Regions from separate parts of the Homo sapiens genome. Here all the other regions are linked to region 2. Evidence: fine-mapped expression QTL. A gene starts in region 2. Each other region holds a variant in brackets. All regions are shown on one strand. Distances are between the middles of the regions. Region 1 overlaps DPY19L1 (dpy-19 like C-mannosyltransferase 1). Region 2 holds the start of DPY19L1 (dpy-19 like C-mannosyltransferase 1). Region 3 overlaps LOC105375228 (a long non-coding RNA gene). Region 4 overlaps LOC105375228 (a long non-coding RNA gene).

Region 1 (5,564 bases), 45 kb after region 2:
TCTTTTCTGTTTAGCAAAATAAAAGGACTTAGTAGCCTCTATGGATTGGGGCGAGAGGGTGGACATGGAGAACACCATTTTAGATTTGTTTCAAGTCACATCATTTCACAGTGTTTCTAACTCAGAACATTCCTTGGAGATAAATAAATTTTATTCTCCTCCTCTAGCTTTGCAGTTCCCAAAAGTGTATAGAAAAAAATCGGCCTCTTTTGTTAGTTAAGTAAAGCTGGGCCCATATTCATGGAAGATGTTGGACCATAACCTGTATTTTAGTAATTTGGTGAAAAAGGAATGTTGTCACCGTGGCTCTGCCCTCAGGAAATTGTCCAACCTCAGAGCCTCCCAGGTTGTATGGCAACTGAGTGAGGGTATGCGACTTCTTAGGCAAACCTCATCCTGAGATTTGGTCGGGGAATTGGATTTTTTTTTTTTTTTGAGACGGAATCTTGCTCTGTCGCACAGGCTGGAGTACAGTGGCACAGTCTTGGCTCACTGCAAGCTCCACCTCCTGGGTTCACGCCATTCTCCTGCCTCAGCCTTCCGAGTAGCTGGGACCACAGGTGCCCACCACCACGCCCGGCTAATTTTTTGTATTTTTAGTAGAGACGGTTTTCACCATGTTAGCCAGGATGGTCTCGATCTCCTGACCTCGTGATCCGCCCGCCTCAGCCTCCCAAAGTGCTGGGATTACAGGCATGAGCCACCGCGCCCCGCCAGGGAATTGGATTTGTGAGTCTTTTGTTCTTTCTCTACCTTTACTCTGCCATTTAGAAAATTAAAGTTATTAAATTTCCATTTTGATTCCTCGTTGTTCAGGGAATTTTTAAAAGGAAATTTTACATTAAATTCCCCAAGTGTCATTTTTTTTAAAAACTCATCTTTCGTGTTTTAGGTTGTTTTAGATTCTAATCAGAGAATGAGGTGCCTTTGCAACTAGATGTTCCAGTGACATAAGAAAATGATGTGTAATCTCTGTATAGTCACGACATTGAGCTTGTTGATTATCTCCTTCAGATCCCTAATATGTTTCCTTTAGCTTACTTGACCTGTTAGATTATGAAAGAATTAAAATTTTCTACTGTGATCAGATTTTATCATGTTCTCTTTGTATTTCTAGAAGTTTTAACTTTTAGTACTTGACTCTTACATTGGTTGTCCAAAAAAATTTTTATTTTTTGAGACAGTTTCACTGTCACCCAGGCTGGAGTGCCACGGCGCAATCTCAGCTTATTGTAGCCTCCACCTTCCCGGTTCAAACGAATCTTGACTCTCAGCCTCCTGAGTAGCTGGGACTACAGTTGTGCGCCACCACACGGCTAATTTTTTTTTTTTTTGTATTTTCGTAGAGATAGTGTTTCATCATGTTGGGCAGGCTGGTGTCGAACTCCTGGCCTCAAGTGATCCACTTGCCTTGGCCTTCCAAAGTGCTGAGATTACAGGCATGAGCCACTGTGCCTGACCCCAAACATTTTTATTTAAAGGAATACAGTTAGAATTGAGTAAATGGAAAGAGATATACTGTGCAACTGAATGACCATCATATAAATGACAGCCCTTCCCAACCCAAATTATATATAAATTTAATGTCATTCTGATCAGAAGTCTGACAATTTTTTCTTGGGTGGGGGGGCAGGGTTGGGAGACTGGTTCAGATGTTATATGTAAGAATAAGTTGGTAAGAATTACCTAAAAAATCTTAAAAATAAGAGTAGTTGGGGGTGGGTAGCTTTTTAAAATCATGTGTTAAAATTACCATAATGCTACAGTAATAAAAATAGTGTGATAACAAAAAAAAAAATACAGAATTAAGTCAGTTGAATGAAATAGAACAGAGTCTAGCATTGTAAGAAATTAAGATAAAGGCTGAATTTCATTTCGCTGGTAAAAGGGATGTTTACTTGATAAATGATTTTAATATAATTGGCTATTTCAAAGAGAACAAAATTAGGGAGAAAGAGCTAAGTGGAAAATGCAATTTATAATATTAGAAGAAATTTTAGGAGACTATAGTTTTAAGGTGTGGAAGACCTTCAGAGACAAGACAGGAAGTGCAGAAGAAATAAAGGAAAATATCAACATATTTAAATACATAAAAGTTTAAAAATTCTTTCTGATAGAATACGCCGCAAATTAGATCAGAATACTTTGTCACACATATGTGTTAACTTAAAATAATCAAAAGGATCAGAATCTAAATAGCGTTTATTCAAGCACAAAGTGTGAGGGTAGACCACTCAGGAACACGAACTCCAAAGGAATGAAGTCAGACTTTGGAAGTAAGGAAGTTTAGGTTTCATTTATATAGGCAGAGGCAGAGACATTTTTAGCAGGAATACAACATTATTCATACAGGTTGGCACATAGTCACAGCAGTTTGATTGGTTATAGGTGTTATTTCTTTTGGGGAAGGGTACAGTTAAAAACATTTTTTTTTTTTACAGAGAGTATAATAATGATGGGTTTTCTATAGTCTGATCTAAGCAAAGTAAAACAACACAGGGAAAATTAATCTTTAACAGGGGTTATTAACTACGAAGGCAGGGTCACACCTGTAGTTTCAGCTACTCTGGAGGCTGAGGCAGGAGGATTGCTGGATCCCATGAGTTCGAGGCTGCAGTGAGCCATGATTGTGCCACTCTACCCTAGCTTGGGTGACAGAGTGAGACCCAGTCTCTGGAAAAAAAAAAAAAAAAAAGGCAGGAAGGTTTTGTGCCTGACATTGTTTAATTCTCTAGTCATTGTACTGAACAGGAAAAATAAGAAAGCAAGTTAATCTATAATCTGAGAACGGAAGTTGTAACCATATGTGACTCAGATCACAGTCACATCTCTCTCAAGGCTTAAAGGGGTTGTTTTTTTGGACAGCTTTTAA[A/G]TGTTATTTTCACATTTGACAGTCAGAGGTTTGATAACCTTAATTTTTAAGTAGGGAACAGTCAAATAGAAAAATAGACAAGAATATGAATAAGCAGTTCACGGAAGAGAAAATGCATGTTGTCAAAACAAAACACTAAAATGCTACTGCATACAAGTAGGCAGTGAGAAAAGGGTTTTCACCTATCTAAGGAGAAAATTTGAAAAGCACATGAGTCTGCACGAGGGGTGGAGAAACGACCTCCTGCATACTCTGTGACAAGAGTGTGGACTGCTGCAGTGCTTCCGGGCACAGCTCACATCCTTTGACTCACGTGTCTCACAGTTAGGTCCCTCCTGCCGAAACAAACGTGCCAGCATTTACATGTACGAGGATGTTTAACCATTTTTTATTATAGCAAGAAACTGAAAAATATTTATATGCCCGGTAATATGGAATGGACTAAATAAATATATTTGTACTATACAGTATTTGCCATCTATAAAAATAATCCCTTTAAGTTTACATACATTGATTAGGAATAATCTTTATGCTAGAATAATTAGAAAAGGAACAAATTTCAGAGAGATGTTATATTGATCACATAGAAAATATATGTTTGTGTGGTTAGAGAGAGAGATTTGGAAGAACAGACACATACTAAAATGTTCTTAGGTGAATAGGATTGGGAGAGGGTAGTGAGAAAATCACTTTTTTTCCCCTATAAACTTCTATATTTTTTGTCTTGTTAGAGTAAGTTCAAAACACTAAAATGTATTTATTTGTTTTTTAAACCGTTAACTCTATCTTAACCTTTCTAATGTCTAATCACTTGTGATGAAGCCTGGGCCTAGCCTGTGTGCTTCTCTTCTGAAGAAGATGTGGTACACCTTTCAGGAGAGAACCCTGGCGTCCACTTCCTGGCCTGTACTGCTTTCTAAGCTCCTCTGTCTGATGCTCTCATTTCAGTGATCCATCACTTCAGACACTTTCTGGCTTCAGTTTCTTTGCCCCTTTATATTTCATTTGTGCTGTCTAGGCTGATAATCGGTAGGCAAAAATCACACAGTCTTATGATTACTGACCCTGTAGATTTGTGTTCTGCAGCCTCAGTTGTTCCCCTAAGATATCCCAGCAGCACTGTGTTTTCCCCAGTTACCACTCTCCTGAAATGTGAGTGGTATTTCAGACATTTCTGTCTTTCCTCAAACGTTTAATGCTGCCATCGTTTCACTCTGGCAGCGAGTGGCTGTGTCTTCTGCTCTGTGGGGAACATGGAAGCTCCACAAAGTACTTACCACTAATATGCAGTCTTCCTCCTCTTTTGCCAAGGCAAACAGGCCACCTGTGCTGGGGTCCCAGCCCTACCTGTCTCCTTCTGGATACTCCCTACATGGATTATCCCTGCTGGCCATTGCATCTCTTCCTCTTTTCCTCATTGATACATCACAAGAGTAAATACAAGGCCTTTGATGCCTATACCATCTGGTTCTTTGTTTCCTCTCTGACCTCTCTGTGGTATACTTATAGATAGAGAAATAAAAGGAAGGTAGATAGAGAAAAAGAAGGAAGGATATTTGGGTAGAATAATGAGAAAGCAGCATGAGCTAAAATGAGTGAGAAGACCTCAAGAGTAAAAATGCAGAACATGATGAAATAAACCTAAAGATAGCCTTATGTCCCCTACCCAGACTTGGGGGACAATAGGGAACATATTTCACTCTCATCTGAGCAAATGAAGGTTAATTGTTAGAACTACCAGATTATACCATTGTAATTTCTTACCTAGAGTTATAAGCCTGATTGTCATACTTTGATATTTGTGTTCTATTCCAGTTTTTGAAATCAAATGAAACATAAAACTTTATAAATTGGTATTCCTCAAGTGTATTCTGCAGAAAAGTAGCTTGGGGATGGGATTTGGGAAATATAAAATTAAATCTTTAATGTGTGGAAGTGCCTTGTGAATTTCTAGGAGCAGGTAGGCAGTGTGGGGTTTTCCATCCTTATGACCATGGATCCCTTTCCTTGCACGTCTTTCTCTCCCTTTTTCCTAATGTATGTCATCTGTCCCAAGGAAAGCAGTTTGAGAAATGTTGAAGGACATAAATAAATATGAGGTACTAAAGAAAATAAAAAGAAATATCAGGTTGCGTGATGTACAGTAATATGACTACTAAGAATTTTCTATTCCCTTTCAGTTTGCGTGCTTTTCTGAGTCTATACATTTTGAAGGTAGCAAATGATTTTTAAAAAATGAGAAAAGATTATTTTGACTAATGATCTTTTGGAGGAAATAAACTATTTTGTAAATAAGCATAGGAGAGTTCTAGTATGACTATAAAATCTTATATAATACCAGTGGTTATGATATTATGTGTTTTAAGGTTTTTCTTAGGATTGACCTGAATTTTTGTTATTTGAGTTATGTTTTCTTCTTTTCCAGTGGCAGCCGATTAGGAGGCCTGGTTACAGTGTTGTGCTTCTTTTTCAATCATGGAGAGGTAGGTAATCAAAAACTATTCTCAGAATTACTTCTGGAAATGCAGTTTTCTTCTTTAAATTTAATCTATAATGGCATTCTTTAAATGTTTGATCTTATTATTTTGATTCAAAATTTAAACACTAGCATTCATTTGAGTTAACTTTTCATGACCATTGTACTTCTTATGTGATATAAGGCTTAGTAATTTGATGAAATAATGGGTCTGTA
Region 2 (5,564 bases):
CTCCATTTTAAGAATGAAGAAATCCAGACTCAAAGAGGTATAATACCTTGGTCAAGGCTGGTATGGGTCAATGTAGTGGCTGCAAACTGGATCTAAATTGACCGTGTTTAAGAAAAAAACAAACAAAACAAAAAAACCAAAAAACTAATACCTCACACTGCCCCTCTCCGCATGGTTGCCAAGCCGAGAAGGGGAACTGACAAGCACTTGTGGAACTGCATTCATTCACTCACTCATTCAACAAGTGTTTTCCTGGTACAAACGGTACCAGCTTAAGGGAGGCAGTTCCTGAATTCAGGGCCTATCACATAAAGTAGACACACAGCAATCTAATAATTCAAATGTTGAACCTCTTTTTCCATGCGTCTTTCTAATCATTAAAAAAAATCCATCATTTGTATTATTTTTATTTATTTATTTTTTTGAGATGGAGTCTCGCTCTGTCGCCCAGGCTGGAGTGCAGTGGCGTATCTCAGCTCACTGCAACCTCCGCCTCCCGGGTTCAGGCGATTCTTCTGCCTCAGCCTCCCAAGTAGCTGGGACTACAGGCGCCTGCTACCACGCCTGGCTAATTTTTGTATTTTTATTAGAAACAGAGGTTCACCATCTTGGCCAGGCTGGTCTTGAACTCTTGGCCTCGTGATCTGCCCGCCTCGGCCTCCCAGAGTGTTGGGATTACAGGCGTGAGCCACGGTGCCCGGCCAGTTATTCGTATTATCTTTAATAGGCATTGAATTAGCTTTCTTTTAACTGAATACATTCAACATTAATCCCAGAGGTAGCATTGAGTTCAGCTGACACAATGTTTCAGAATCCAAGCCTTCTGCATCCTACTTTCAACCATTATTTTTTAAACCAGTGTATAAAAATAGTTGTTCTTTGCTCCAATAAAGACATTGGAAAATCCAAATTCATAAACTAGACAGGGTATGAGGGAGTATTAATTAGCATGGCAAACACCCTCCCTTTACAAAATAATCCACTGTCTCTTAAAAAGGCTAACAATGAACGAATGCTGGTATTAGTAAAGAAATCACTGGGCAAAGAAACAAAGAGCGAGAAAGCCACGTGAAGTCCCTGGAATTACAATAGAGATAAGCAGAACGATGGGCCTTGATTTACAACATTGGGACTTAAAGACAACTTTTTGGAACAAGCCACTGGGCACGGCCAGGAAAGGAACCTCCCAGTTGTAATCCATGCTGTTGTAAGACTGTGTGCAAAGAATGCAGGGGTGGAGGGAGAATTGGGATCTACCTGGGTTTCTAAATTTTCCCGGGTTTAATTTACTCGTGCATTCTGCTATGTAAAAGAAAACATATTTTCGACTAAAATCTCCTATCTTATCAACGCCAAGTTTTCCTGCTTCCTATTAAGCAACAAGGTTACAGCAAGTGTAACAAACTGAATGTACTTATTGATGATCTTTCCTGCTCCAGCCAATCCATCCTATCACCTTCAGCCTGGCTCCTACCCTGGTCTTCAGTTTACACTTGTGCCTCGTCCCTTATCAGCTCCCCATGAGATTCCAGGCTGCTATTTTAATACTCTGTTACTATCTTAAATCGGGTCGCACCCGTTCTTCTTGTCGGTGAGTGAGGGGCTGCGCTCCAAGTTGCGCGACCACACTGCGGGGAGTAAACGGAGACGGTGACTTGATTGCCACCCGCGCGCTTCACATCGGTGGGGCCGACCAGGCGCCCAGGGCGCACGCACAGCGCCCCTAAGTGGCCGCTCCGGGCGCCTTCTCCCTGCCCCGCCGCGTCTCGCCTGCGCGGGCTCCAAGCGCAGCCTTAACAGGCTCCGAAACTTGAATCAGCGCCCCGATCCCGAGAGGGCTCTTCCTTCGGCCCCATCACTCCCACAATGGAAGGGCGGCCGCCTCCGGAAGGCCGTCCGCCCCCGCGTCCTCGCACCGGCCGAGCCCCGCGCGGGCGCCGAAGAGGTGTGGGTAGCCGGGCGCCAGAGGGGTCGGGCCCCGCCTGCGCCGGAAGTCCGCGCGTGCGCGCTGGCCGGCCTGGAGCGCGCGTCCGGCGCAGAGGGGCGGCGGGGGCGGGGCCGCGGCCGCTCGCAGGGTGTCCCCGCCCCCGCCCCCCGGCGTTCCGCGGTCGCCGTGACAACCGGAGCGGCGGCAACGGCGGCGGGCTAGCAAGTCCGGCGCCGCCTCCCGGCGGTACTGCCAGCCAGGCAGCAGCCGCCCGGCCTCCACGATCTCCCCGCCTCCCGGCCCGCGGGGAGGGACGAGCCCGCCCTCCACCCTCCGCCCGCCCGCCCGCTGGAGAGTGAGCTGCGCCCAGCCGCCCAGCCAGCCCGCCGTTCTCTGGCCGCCGTCCGGGCGCGCGCAGCGAGCGGGCGCGACTATGCCAAGATGGTCCTGCAGGCGCGGAACAAGCACCGGGAGGCGGCTCCCAAGCCGCCCCAGCCACCCCGCGCCTCACAGTCGCCGCTGAGGGGGGCGTCGGACGTCGGCGCCGGGGAGCCGGGGCCCGAGCGCGCGCCCCTGTCCCCGGGGCGCAAGGGCGCCGCGGGCAGGAAGGGGCCCCGCGCCGAGCCCGGCGCGCCGCCCGCCGGGGGCGGCCTTGGGGGGCGCCTGGCCGCCCGGCTGCGCTGGGCGCTGGGCCTGCGGCGCGCGGGGCGCGGCCGGACCTGGACCACGCTCCTGTTAGGTGAGCAGCCCTAGCGCCGGCGCCGCCGGGACGCGGAACTTTGAGGCGCTGGCCCCCTCCCCTCCCCTCCCCTCCCCTTCCTTCCCCTCTCCTCCCGCTTCCGCCGCGCCGAGCCCCGCCAGCCGGACCAGCCAGTTTGCAGCCCTCTCCGACTTTTTCTCTGGGACATTCTTACCTTCTCCTCCCCGCAACTCCCTGGCTCAGCTCTCCTCGCACGCTTCCCACCCGCGCTCTGCCTGGGCTTTAAAAGAATGGCCCGGGGATCAACAGCTGCCCGGCCTGGCCGCGGGCAGCAGGTCTGCGCTAACGAGACTTGAGCGCTGCTGATTGGTACGACTGGCCGCCTTCCCGTTATCTCGGCCTCTGACCGCCAGGATGGTTTGCTTTGGCTTGGAAACGATTCCGTGGAGCTCAAAGCAAACGCACGTTCCATGTCGTAGAGAGTTGCTTAAACTTATAATTAAATTTTAGCGTACTTTTTTCTTCCTGGCCGCAAACGCCGCTGGTGGCACTTTATTTGTGATTCCCCTCGACACGTCACTTTCTAGGTTGTGTTGTGTTTGGGGCGCCCGAGCCTTAATCCTCCCTGCTGCCCTTGGAACCTTTGGTGAGGAGGGCTCTCCTCCCCTCCCTCTGCCATTTACCAAATGGATGATGTGTAATGATGTGCTGAAAAAAAAAAACAAAGTTGACGCATTCGTATGTTTCGGACTGACTTCAGGTTTCCTCTGTTTCCTGGTTGAATTTTGATAAGGCAAGTTGTAGCAGTTTGGATAACAGGCCTAATTTTTCTAAGTCAACTAGTGAAATGCTGTTACATTGCTTTTTTCTATATGCCTCAGTGGGCTTTTCGCTACTGAACTATTTAATTACTGTTGATTTATCCCTTAGTATATTTTCAGATTCCCTTGGTGACTCAAAGTTCCCTTAGCCAGGAGTTGGGGTCCAGTATAAGTCAAGGAATAGGACACAGCAAATTGGCTTCCCCTGAGATCACAGCCACAAATAAAAGCCACTCAGTCATAAAAAGCCAGTCATCTCTGTATGTTTTAATGGGCTCAAGAAGGTTGTTCCTAGGGTACTTTTTTTCCCCCCATTGCCGATTCAAGCCTAGAAAAACCAAGTTTGTTTTTCTTTGTTTGTTTGTTTGTCTGTTTCCAGCACATTTCCCCCCGCCCCCTTTTTTTTTATCTCAGTAGCAAGCTTGAAAAGCTGGCTAGTATGCAGGTTAGAAAAGCTCACCTTGGGGAGGCAGCACGATACAGTGGATGAGGCAGAGCCTTCAGATCTAGTACACAGCGGTTCAGTTTGGTTTAAGTTTCAGGTTCCTTTGTGAGTCTTTCGTTCTCTGCTAGTGGGGGGTTATCACATGGCGAATTTACTCCACAGGGATCCACAGGATCTGTTAAGGATCATAACTAAAAGGTGTGGGTGATACATGGGAAGATACTTTGTGTTTAGAGCACTTGACACATTGTAGTTGTTGTAATAAAAGAAAGTGTGTGATGCTGATTTGAGATCTGATGACAGAATGGAGTTGCATTTTTATTGAATGACTAAACATTAACCACTTTGTAGTAAAATATAGAATGGCATTGCTTCTTCAGGGATGTTACAATAACAAATCTTAGAATAATGATATTTATTGCTATTTTCTGCATATTTTCTTTTTTGATTGCGTTTCCTTTGAATCTTCTTTGGATGGATGCATGACTTATATTTGGATGACTTACCTTTGGATTTAGTAATTCCCATACCTAAATACAGTTTTGTATTAATGTAACAGTATAGCACGTTGCTTGACTTGCCCCTTTGAGCATTGAAAGGAGGTACAGTGAATGTGGTAGATTGTATTTTTGGGTGTACCCTGGACCATGGCCATCAGATATATGGAAGTTGGATGAACAGACCCAGGTCTAGAGACTTTCTGTCCTTGTTAACCCTCTGCATGAGGCCCCAGGGCACCTTGAGAGATGATTCTGCTGAATGATTGGACCTGGGTTGCTTCTTTCTCTGGCTCTGTACCGTCATAAACTGATGTCAGACCTATTTCTTCCCCACGATTATGCCCTGCCACAGCGTCAAAAAACCACTCAGATCCTGCAGAGAGGAGCAGAGTTTAGACATTTTTGAAAGCTGCCTTATTTCCTGTTTTCTTCCCCCCTCCCAGAATGAGTGAGAGTTGAGCTGACATTATACAGTATTTCAATGTGGGACTTTAAAATAGCTGTTTGGTTTTCCACATTGCATTGCATATTCTTTTGTTCATCAAGAGTTCATTTGTAACTGATCAAAAAAAGAACAATTATAACAACTAAATATTAAGCTAGACAGAAATGGATTCATTTCTATTTAGAAAGTAATTTTGTAACTTAAAGCTCCGTGATAGAAACACACATTTTCAAGAGTTAGAAACTGTCTGGGGCTTTCCTCCATAGGTTCTAATCACTGATGAGGAACTCACTGCCTTCCAACATGGTCTTTCCACTGTTGGGCAGGGTTAAGCATTGTTGAAAAGTCTCTTTTCATAAATATATGTTTTTCTTATTGTGGGGCATTATTTGCTACTTATTTAGTGCTAATATTTGTAAAGAGGGGTTCTTGACATGTTTATTTTTAGAAGTTTCAACCTGATAGCTTCCTCATGCAGAGGTGGCTGTGACATAGTAAGAACCTTGACAATGTTTCCCAAACTTTTTTGACCACAGCTGACATTGTAACAATACATTTTATATTAAACCTGTTCACACTTCCACAATGCAACTCAGTACATATATGCATAAGTCTATATGTCTGTTGGTCTATTTATGTATGCCAGTGCTCCGTCATGGAAACAATTGTGGTAGTAAAAGATACACCCATTAGACATGCAAACAAAGCATGTCTGTGGTGAAAGAC
Region 3 (5,564 bases), 42 kb before region 2:
AAGCATTGAAGAAAACAAATTGCCATAAGAGTCTCCTGTCCCTGCCTTGGATCATTTCATGCTAATCCAAGGCAGTTTATGCTAAAAAATGTTAAATTTATCAGGAATTCGATTAGGTTTTAATTTGTCTATTTTACTACAAATGGGCCTTATGTTTAGATGGTGATGGCACTTGGAAATTATATTTATGTTTGTTTCATCTTGAAAGTGTGCTTTTACATATATATTTATGAATGTATATTGAAGCTTTATTATTAGGATATGTCTTTCATTTGGTTAAATGAGATGTGAAAATGCAACATGCTTAATTTCATTCTATTTTTTAAATTTCTAAACATTGAAATTGTTTTTTGAAATGACGCTTTAAAATATTTAACTTATGAAATAAATTTGTCTCTGAAAATCTAGATGTTGTGTTATGTATCTATTTTCTCTAGACAGGAATACATTTCTAATATGGATATATATGTCTGTCTTTTTTCAGGCCTGGTTGCAGTATGCTTGAAATCTGTGATGTGGAAGACCCTTCCAATGCAGCTAACCCTCCCTTATGTAGCGTCCTGCTCAAAGATGCCAGGCCTTACTTCACCACAGTATTTCAGAATAGTGTGTACAGAGTATTGAGGGTTAACTGAGAAGGAAACTACCCATTACACTATGGCACAATGTGGTGTGTCAAAAACAATCACCCTTTGGCTTATTTACATTAATAAAAATCACAAGCTTTAATAACAGACACTTAAAAATAAGATAAAAATGGATTGAAAGTTTCTCTGATTACTAAAAGGTAAATTACTTTTCTGTTCATTGAATGTCAGCCTTATTAAGCTTGTCATATAAGTTATTAAATCATTCATGTCATACTGCATAAACAAATGTTCATTTCAGAATTTTAAAGAAAAATGTATATAAAAGAACAATGAATTTTAATAAATCAAGGGTACGTAAGTCCTTTTTCATCCAACTAGGTGAATTGCTTCAGATTTTCCCTAGTACCAGAGTGTACCTGCTCAAACTCTTTGAACCACTTAAGGGAGAAGAACGCAAGCTCTGAAATGACATCCTTAAAATGCTGATACTGATCACAACCTCTTTACCTCTGTGAGCAAATTGTAACAGTGTGTCTTTTAAGGTGTTTTTATTTCACCAGCCCTTAAGAAAGATCTCTAATACCTTTTAATACTTTTTTTTTATAATTTCAAGTTGAAGTGTTTTTAAAAACACCTTGTTTTGTAACGTTTTGAATCTCTTGAGATGTATTTACCCCACTAGATACATATTTGCCACTGGTTAGTTCTCCATCTAAGCTCAAGAGGTTATTCATCTCTCTTTAGATTCCAATGGTTTTTCTTTTAACATCCAGGTAAAATAGAAACTGCTATGGTATACAACCAAATTTTGGGGTTAAACATAATCAGAAAAGAAAATCCAGTTAAATTTATGAAGTGAGATTTTCAGATCCTAGATCTTGAATAAAGCAAACGGCTTTTCATCTTGATGGCCCCAAAGCTTGTTGGTCATGGTCTTTATTTCTGGCCACTATCATCTTCTTAAATAATATATTTTTAAGCCCTCATTTATTTTTGGTTTTGGATGAGGAAAGTCATGTTTTCTAAGTCCTCTCCCCTAATAAAACCTACCCAACAATAGTGCTTTGAAAAGTGGTAGTTATCTTGAAGATAGATACTCTTGCCAAATGCAAAGATAAACATTCTTTTTGTCTGCTTTATAAATATGAAATATGCCAGATCTATAGTATTTTAATGTGCATCTACTTTAAATGAGTCATCTTGGGGTTTTTATAATTCCCTTACATTCTTGCCCCTCTACACTTGAAATAACAAAATGCCTTAATTTTATAGATTAGTTCTCTTATAGCAGACAGGCAGCTATATGCAGCAAAACCAATAAAGTTATTTTTCAACTTTAATAGTTGTAAAATGTTATAACAGAATACATAACAGCTAAGAAAACATGCCACATTTTATTTTAGCATTTTCAAATAATTTGTTTTTGGTGTAAGCACAGGATAAAAAAGGAGAGCGTCAAAGAAAAGAGACTTAAAAAAATAACATTCATAAAAATTAACAAAGTATATTTTGGATGATGTTTTTACAGGAAATAGTTTAAGTTGGTAGAATTTTTAAAATGGTACTGTATTAGCTAATAAAATATTCAGTACATATATATGTTTGGATTTATGCATTAAAAAACTAATAAAATTATTTCCAACTTTTGTATTTGTAAATTATTTTGGTACAGGAGACAAAGCATCTAAGAAAGCATGCCGCACATTTTACTTATTTTAGCATTTTCAAATAATCTGTTTCAGTGATGTGTGGGACAAAAAAGGAAAAGAGACGTAACACCTAACATAAAATTAAAGTAACACATTTCAGATGATGTTACAGTAGCAAAGACTTGTAACTAACCCAAATACCCATCAATGATAGACTGGATAAAGAAAATGTGTCACATACACACCATGGAATACTATGCAGCCATAAAAAAGGATGAGTTCATGTCCTTTGCAGGGACGTGGATGAAGCTGGAAGCCATCGTTCTCAGCAAACTAACACAAGATCAGAAAACCAAACACCATATGTTCTCACTCATAAGTGGGAGTTGAACAATGAGAACACATGGACACAGAGAGGGGAACATCACACAAGGGCCTGTTGGTGGGGGGCAAGGGGAGGGAGAGCATTAGGACAAATACCTAATGCATGCAGGACTTAAACCCTAAATGA[C/T]GGGTCGATAGGTGCAGCAAACCACCATGGCACATGTATACCTATGTAACAAACCTGCATGTTTTGCACATGTATCCCAGAACTTAAAGTAAAATAAATTTTAAAAAGTCAGTAGAACTCAACAAAAAATGGATGAGCTGTACTAATAAAATGTTCCATACACATACGATGTTTTCATATATATTTATGTTATTTTCATGTACTAGCTGTGTTAAGTAACTGTAAAGCCCTTGAAGATCCTGTTTTCTGTCTTTTCTCATCCTTCACAATGCATACATTTTGAAATTGAAATTGTTCTCATATAAAGGGAGAAATAGGTTGCTGGGCTTACTAGCCATGTTTACACTGGCAGTGCTCTTTCTTAGCCATTTAAAAATGATTCTGTATAGTCTTACACAGAAGGCAATATACTATGATGGAAATAGTGTGAGCTGTGCAATGAGATGTATCGAAGTTTGAATACTGCTTCCATTAGTTAGGTACCTACCATGTATTCAAAAGATATTCATTAAACACTTACTGTATGTCAGGCACCATGCTATGGTTGGTCATGTTACTTAACTCCATGAGCTTTCTTCACCTGTAAAGCAGAACTCACAATACCTACTTGGCGGAGTCATTATGAGGATTAGTGAAACAAAGTTTTGAAGTACCTGGCACATAAAGGCACTCAACAAACATTAGTTTCTTCTGCACTACCCACTACAACTCACTAATAACCATTTCAGTAATATCAAGTTGCAGAGTGAGGTTAGCTCATTTCAGAATTCCAAATAGTCTCCCCTTTATTTGATGTCAACAAATAGGAGTACTGGGCTGCAGCTTGTTCTTATACAAATTGTTCTACTGAATTCTTGCCTGTATAAATTTTATTTTTTATTCTTTTGAAACATGAGGAGATTTTCACTTAATTCAATGAAGCTTTTTCCATAGTTTCTAGGATCCTATGTTTGCACACTAATCTGCAACTATGGCTAGAAGTGAGGTGCACACAAGCTGCAACAATTCCTTCATCTGCTTCATCCGGTTGTCAGAAGCAAATGCACAGCTTCAACAGTATCTGTGTTCTACCACTTTGCTGCTGATAGACACCAAAAATCTGAGTACTTTAATAATAAAATTATGTTTATATTTTTATACATTACATGTTCCTATTATACACGAAGGACAAACTCACAGAAAAATTAGTTTTGAAAAAAACAGGACATTTTAAAGAAGGGGACAATTATATATATACATACACATAGCAGCAAAAATGGCAATAGCTCAAAAGTGGTTAAGATATACATACAGACACTGCAATGAACATCTTAGTGCATACTTTATGATTTTAAAGTTATTTCCATAGGAAAGATTTCATAAAGTTAAATTTCCTTAAAAAAACTGTGGACACCCTTAAAGCCTTCAATGCAGTTAGCCTCAAATTACCTTTGCAAAGGTATGTGTGCACCTTTTGGATTGTATGCACCACCAAAAGTTAGTGTGTATAACAATGCTCATTTTACAACACTCTCACTGGGATTAATTAGCCTTATTAAGAATATATTTTGCTAATTTGTGAGGCCCAAAATAGTATTTGTTATTATTCTCATTTGTATTTGTTCTATGTCCAGAAAAACTCACCATATTCTTTAGAAAGTGTATGTCTCTGAAGCTCTGTATGGGTTCATATTCTTTAATTCATCGAGTCTGTTCATAAAGGATGGGGATTGAGATAAGGGGAAAGAAAAATCTTTGAAAATTCTTAATAAGAGAAATATAAGGACATTTTCAAAAGGACAGGTATATATATATAACTTCATGCACAAAAGTCAAATTTAAATGGGTCAAGGACTTAAATGAAAGTAAAATGTTTAAAGTCTTAGAAGAAAATAGGGAAATACAGATTAAAACCACATGGTAATATTTACATTCAGATAAGAATTGGTGAGGACAGGGTGCCACAAGAACTCTCATGAAATTATAGTAGGAGTGTAAATTGGTACAGCCACCTTAGAAAATAAGTTGTTAATTCCTAATAAGTTTTAAAGTATGTAGTCTCTGCAATTTATAGTGTCACCCTAAAGAAATGTTGTTACAAATATACCAAGGAAACCAATTACAAGAATCTTCATGGAAGCATTATTTGTACCTGAGGAAAAAAAGCTGAAAACAACTCAAAGGCCCACCAACAGAATGGATAAAATGGATATTTCCATACAACGTAATATTGTAAAGGAATGAATGTGATCTACAGTGACAAGCATCAGTGGGAACCAATGTCAAATAGACTGTTAAAAAACTAAGTCATCAAAGGGGATGTGTGTGCATGTCAATATATATGCCATTTACATAGGGCCTAAAAGCAAACAAGACAATATTATAGAAGATATAGTGTGGCAAAACAGCGAAAGCATAGGCATAATTAATTCAAAACATAGGCTGGTGATCACTTCTAGGAAAGAATGCAATACAGGAGAAGCCCTGGGTGCTTCAATGTTAATATTCAATTCCTTGGTGTTAAGTATACAAGTGTTCATTTTATAATTCTTTAAAATGTGTGTGTATATATGTATATAATGCTTAATATATATTTATACTCTTCAAAGTAGGGCTTTGATTCCTCATCAGTGGTTCTTAAACCTCATGTTCTCTTTAGGTAACTCTGGGAGCCTAAATAAGCATCAAGAGTTGTTCTGATGACACGTCCAGCTATTCAAATAAATGTTCAAATTGTAGATTTTATTGTTTCCATTTGTGCAATGTATTTTTTTCCTTCCAACTTCTATTTTAGGTGCAGGAGTACATTTGCAGGTTTGTTATATAGGTAAATTG
Region 4 (5,564 bases), 59 kb before region 2:
AAGTGGAATTACTAACATCTAACTAATGTATTAAGGATGCCAATCTAAAATTTGCTAATAGCATCATATTTAAAAAATAATAACTATTAACATGAGAAGGAATGTAAGATTTTTTTTTTTTTTACTTTTTTTTTTATTATACTTTAAGTTTTAGGGTACATGTGCACATTGCGCAGGTTAGTTACATACGTATACATGGGCCATGCTGGTGCGCTGCATCCACTAACTCATCATGTAGCATTAGGTATATCTCCCAATGCTATCCCTCCCCCCTCCCCCACCCCACAACAGTCCCCAGAGTGTGATGTTCCCCTTCCTGTGTCCATGTGATCTCATTGTTCAATTCCCACCTATGAGTGAGAATATGCGGTGTTTGGTTTTTTGTTCTTGCAATAGTTTACTGAGAATGATATTTCCAATTTCATCCATGTCCCTACAAAGGACATGAACTCATCATTTTTTATGGCTGCATAGTATTCCATGGTGTATATGTGCCACATTTTCTTAATCCAGTCTATCATTGTTGGACATTTGGGTTGGTTCCAAGTCTTTGCTATTGTGAATAATGCCACAATAAACATACGTGTGCATGTGTCTTTATAGCAGCATGATTTATAGTCCTTTGGGTATATACCCAGTAATGGGATGGCTGGGTCAAATGGTATTTCTAGTTCTAGATCCCTGAGGAATCGCCACACTGACTTCCACAAGGGTTGAAATAGTTTACAATCCCACAAACAGTGTAAAAGTGTTCCTATTTCTCCACATCCTCTCCAGCACCTGTTGTTTGCTGACTTTTTAATGATTGCCATTCTAACTGGTGTGAGATGGTATCTCATTGTGGTTTTGATTTGCATTTCTCTGATGGCCAGTGATGATGAGCATTCTTTCATGTGTTTTTTGGCTGCATAAATGTCTTCTTTTGAGAAGTGTCTGTTCATATCCTTTGCCCACTTTTTGATGGGGTTGTTTGTTTTTTTCTTGTAAATTTGTTTGAGTTCATTGTAGATTCTGGATATTAGCCCTTTGTCAGATGAGTAGGTTGCGAAAATTTTCTCCCATTTTGTAGGTTGCCTGTTCACTCTGATGGTAGTTTCTTTTGCTGTGCAGAAGCTCTTTAGTTTAATTAGATCCTATTTGTCAATTTTGGCTTTTGTTGCCATTGCTTTTGGTGTTTTAGACATGAAGTCCTTGCCCATGCCTATGTCCTGAATGGTAATGCCTAGGTTTTCTTCTAGGGTTTTTATGGTTTTAGGTCTAACGTTTAAGTCTTTAATCCATCTTGAATTGATTTTTGTATAAGGTAAGGAAGGGATCCAGTTTCAGCTTTCTACATATGGCTAGCCAGTTTTCCCAGCACCATTTATTAAATAGGGAATCCTTTCCCCATTGCTTGTTTTTCTCAGGTTTGTCAAAGATCAGATAGTTGTAGATATGCAGCGTTATTTCTGAGGGCTCTGTTCTGTTCCATTGATCTATATCTCTGTTTTGGTACCAGTACCATGCTGTTTTGTTTACTGTAGCCTTGTAGTATAGTTTGAAGTCAGGTAGCAAGATGCCTCCAGCTTTGTTCTTTGGGCTTAGGATTGACTTGGCAATGCGGGCCCTTTTTTGGTTCCATATGAACTTTAAAGTAGTTTTTTCCAATTCTGTGAAGAAAGGCATTGGTAGCTTGATGGGGATGGCATTGAATCTGTAAATTACCTTGGGCAGTATGGCCATTTTCACGATATTGACTCTTCCTACCCATGAGCATGGAATGTTCTTCCATTTGTATCCTCTTTTATTTCCTTGAGCAGTGGTTTGTAGTTCTCCTTGAAGAGGTCCTTCACGTCCCTTGTAAGTTGGATTCCTAGGTATTTTATTCTCTTTGAAGCAATTGTGAATGGGAGTTCACTCATGATTTGGCTCTCTGTTTGTCTGTTGTTGGTGTATAAGAATGCTTGTGATTTTTGCACATTGATTTTGTATCCTGAGACTTTGCTGAAGTTGCTTATCAGCTTAAGGAGATTTTGGGCTGAGACAGTGGGGTTTTCTAGATATACAATCATGTCATCTGCAAACAGGGACAATTTGACTTCCTCTTTTCCTAATTGAATACCCTGTATTTCCTTCTCCTCCCTTATTGCCCTGGCCAGAACTTCCAACACTATGTTGAATAGAAGTGGTGAGAGAGGGCATCCCTGTCTTGTGCCAGTTTTCAAAGGGAATGCTTCCAGTTTTTGCCCATTCAGTATGATATTGGCTGTGGGTTTGTCATAGATAGCTCTTATTATTTTGAAATATGTCCCATCAATACCTAATTTATTGAGTGTTTTTAGCATGAAGGGTTGTTGAATTTTGTCAAAGGCCTTTTCTGCATCTATTGAGATAATCATGTGGTTTTTGTCTTTGTCTCTGTTTATATGCTGGATTACATTTATTGATTTGCGTATATTGAACCAGCCTTGCATCCCAGGGATGAAGCCCACTTGATCATGGTGGATAAGCTTTTTGATGTGCTGCTGGATTCGTTTTGCCAGTATTTTATTGAGGATTTTTGCATCAATGTTCGTCAAGGATATTGGTCTAAAATTCTCTTTTTTGGTTGTGTCTCTGCCCGGCTTTGGTATCAGAATGATGCTGGCCTCATAAAATGAATTAGGGAGGATTCCCTCTTTTTCTGTTGATTGGAATAGTTTCAGAAGGAAT[A/G]GTACCAGTTCCTCCTTGTACCTCTGGTAGAATTCGGCTGTGAATCCATCTGGTCCTGGACTGTTTTTGGTTGGTAAGCTATTGATTATTGCCACAACTTCAGATCCTGTTATTGGTCAATTCAGAGATTCAACTTCTTCCTGGTTTAGTCTTGGGAGAGTGTATGTCTCAAGGAATTTATCCATTTCTTCTGGATTTTCTAGTTTATTTGCGTAGAGGTGTTTGTAGTATTCTCTGATGGTAGTTTGTATTTCTGTGGGATCGGTGGTGATATCCCCTTTATCATTTTTTATTGTGTCTATTTGATTCTTCTCTCTTTTTTTCTTTATTAGTCTTGCTAGCGGTCTATCAATTTTGTTGATCCTTTCAAAAAACCAGCTCCTGGATTCATTAATTTTTTGAAGGGTTTTTTGTGTCTCTATTTCCTTCAGTTCTGCTCTGATTTTGGTTATTTCTTGCCTTCTGCTAGCTTTTGAATGTGTTTGCTCTTGCTTTTCTAGTTGTTTTAATTGTGATGTTAGGGTGTCAATTTTGGATCTTTCCTGCTTTCTTTTGTGGGCATTTAGTGCTATAAATTTCCCTCTACACACTGCTTTGAATGCGTCCCAGAGATTCTGGTATGTTGTGTCTTTGTTCTGGTTGGTTTCAAAGAACATCTTTATTTCTGCCTGCATTTCGTTATGTATCCAGTAGTCATTCAGGAGCAGGTTGTTCAGTTTCCATGTAGTTGAGCGGTTTTGAGTGAGATTCTTAATCCTGAATTCTAGTTTGACTGCACTGTGGTCTGAGAGATAGTTTGTTATAATCTCTGTCCTTTTACATTTGCTGAGGAGAGCTTTACTTCCAAGTATGTGGTCAATTTTGGAATAGGTGTGGTGTGGTGCTGAAAAAAATGTATATTCTGTTGATTTGGGGTGGAGAGTTCTGTAGATGTCTATTAGGTCCGCTTGGTGCAGAGCTGAGTTCAATTCCTGGGTATCCTTGTTGACTTTCTGTCTCGTTGATCTGTCTAATGTTGACAGTGGGGTGTTAAAGTCTCCCATTATTGTGTGGGAGTCTACGTCTCTTTGTAGGTCACTCAGGAGTTGCTTTATGAATCTGGGTGCTCCTGTATTGGGTGCATATATATTTAGGATAGTTAGCTCTTCTTGTTGAATTGATCCCTTTACCATTATGTACTGGCCTTCTTTGTCTCTTTTGATCTTTGTTGGTTTAAAGTCTGTTTTATCAGAGACTAGGATTGCAACCCCTGCCTTTTTTTGTTTTCCATTGGCTTGGTAGATCTTCCTCCATCCTTTTATTTTGAGCCTATGTGTGTCTCTGCACGTGAGATGGGTTTCCTGAATACAGCACACTGATGGGTCTTGACTCTTTATCCAATTTGCCAGTCTGTGTCTTTTAATTGGAGCATTTAGTCCATTTACATTTAAAGTTAATAGTGTTATGTGTGAATTTGATCCTGTCATTATGATGTTAGCTGGTGATTTTGCTCATTAGTTAATGCAGTTTCTTCCTAGTCTCGATGGTCTTTACATTTTGGCTTGATTTTGCAGCGGCTGGTACTGGTTGTTCCTTTCCATGTTTAGCGCTTCCTTCAGGAGCTCTTTTAGGGCAGGCCTAGTGGTGACAAAATCTCTCAGCATTTGCTTGTCTCTAAAGGATTTTATTTCTCCTTCACTTATGAAGCTTAGTTTGGCTGGATATGAAATTCTGGGTTGAAAATTCTTTCCTTTAAGAATGTTGAATATTGGCCCCCACTCTCTTCTGGCTTGTAGGGTTTCTGCCGAGAGATCCGCTGTTAGTCTGATGGGCTTCCCTTTGAGGGTAACCCGACCTTTCTCTCTGGCTGCCCTTAACATTTTTTCCTTCATTTCAACTTTGGTGAATCTGACAATTATGTGTCTTGGAGTTGCTCTTCTCGAGGAGTATCTTTGTGGCGTTCTCTGTATTTCCTGAATCTGAATGTTGGCCTGCCTTGCTAGATTGGGCAAGTTCTCCTGGATAATATCCTGCAGAGTGTTTTCCAACTTGGTTCCATTCTCCCCGTCAGTTTCAGGTACACCAATCAGACGTAGATTTGGTCTTTTCACATAGTCCCATATTTCTTGGAGGCTTTGCTCATTTCTTTTTATTCTTTTTTCTCTAAACTTCCCTTCTCACTTGTTTCATTCATTTCATCTTCCATTGCTGATACCCTTTCTTCCAGTTGATCACATCGGCTCCTGAGGCTTCTGCATTCTTCACGTAGTTCTCGAGCCTTGGTTTTCAGCTCCATCAGCTCCTTTAAGCACTTCTCTGTATTGGTTATTCTAGTTATACATTCTTCTAAATTTTTTTCAAAGTTTTCAACTTCTTTCCCTTTGGTTTGAATGTCCTCCCGTAGCTCAGAGTAATCTGATCGTCTGAAGCCTTCTTCTCTCAGCTCGTCAAAGTCATTCTCCATCCAGCTTTGTTCAGTTGCTGGTGAGGAACTGCGTTCCTTTGGAGGAGGAGAGGCACTCTGCATTTTAGGGTTTCCAGTTTTTCTGTTCTGTTTTTTCCCCATCTTTGTGGTTTTATCTACTTTTGGTCTTTGATGATGGTGATGTACAGATGGGTTTTTGGTGTGGATGTCCTTTCTGTTTGTTAGTTTTCCTTCTAACAGACAGGACCCTCAGCTGCAGGTCTGTTGGAATACCCTGCCGTGTGACGTGTCAGTGTGCCCCTGCTGCGGGGTGCCTCCCAGTTAGGCTGCTCGGGGGTCAGGGGTCAGGGACCCACTTGAGGAGGCAGTTGGCCCGTTCTCAGATCTCCAGCTGCGTACTGGGAGAACCACTGCTCTCTTCCAAGCTGTCAGACAGGGACATTTAAGTCTGCAGAGGTTACTGCTGTCT

Evidence for each region.
Region 1: its variant is fine-mapped to the expression of DPY19L1 in whole blood (INTERVAL, PIP 0.99).
Region 3: its variant is fine-mapped to the expression of DPY19L1 in whole blood (INTERVAL, PIP above 0.99).
Region 4: its variant is fine-mapped to the expression of DPY19L1 in whole blood (TOPMed, PIP above 0.99).

Annotation. Positions count from the first base shown.
Region 1 is chr7:34,989,675-34,995,238 of GRCh38, reverse strand. DPY19L1 (dpy-19 like C-mannosyltransferase 1) reads left to right here. Exons shown (of 22, transcript NM_001366673.1): 7 at 5,298-5,355. Among named protein-coding and RNA genes, the nearest start is that of DPY19L1, 45 kb to the left of the region's middle. The variant A/G (reference allele first, on the strand shown) is at 2,873.
Region 2 is chr7:35,034,199-35,039,762 of GRCh38, reverse strand. DPY19L1 (dpy-19 like C-mannosyltransferase 1) reads left to right here and starts at 2,278. Exons shown (of 22, transcript NM_001366673.1): 1 at 2,278-2,666. The coding sequence starts at 2,369. LOC105375228 (a long non-coding RNA gene) reads right to left here and starts at 2,977. Exons shown (of 3, transcript XR_001745162.3): 1 at 2,842-2,977. RefSeq lists an enhancer at 1,439-1,668 and silencers at 1,719-2,388, 2,419-2,588.
Region 3 is chr7:35,076,661-35,082,224 of GRCh38, reverse strand. All of the region lies in intron 1 of LOC105375228 (a long non-coding RNA gene), which reads right to left. It also overlaps the pseudogene DPY19L2P1. Among named protein-coding and RNA genes, the nearest start is that of DPY19L1, 42 kb to the right of the region's middle. The variant C/T (reference allele first, on the strand shown) is at 2,751.
Region 4 is chr7:35,093,534-35,099,097 of GRCh38, reverse strand. The region is part of intron 1 of LOC105375228 (a long non-coding RNA gene); the gene reads right to left. It also overlaps the pseudogene DPY19L2P1. Among named protein-coding and RNA genes, the nearest start is that of DPY19L1, 59 kb to the right of the region's middle. The variant A/G (reference allele first, on the strand shown) is at 2,692.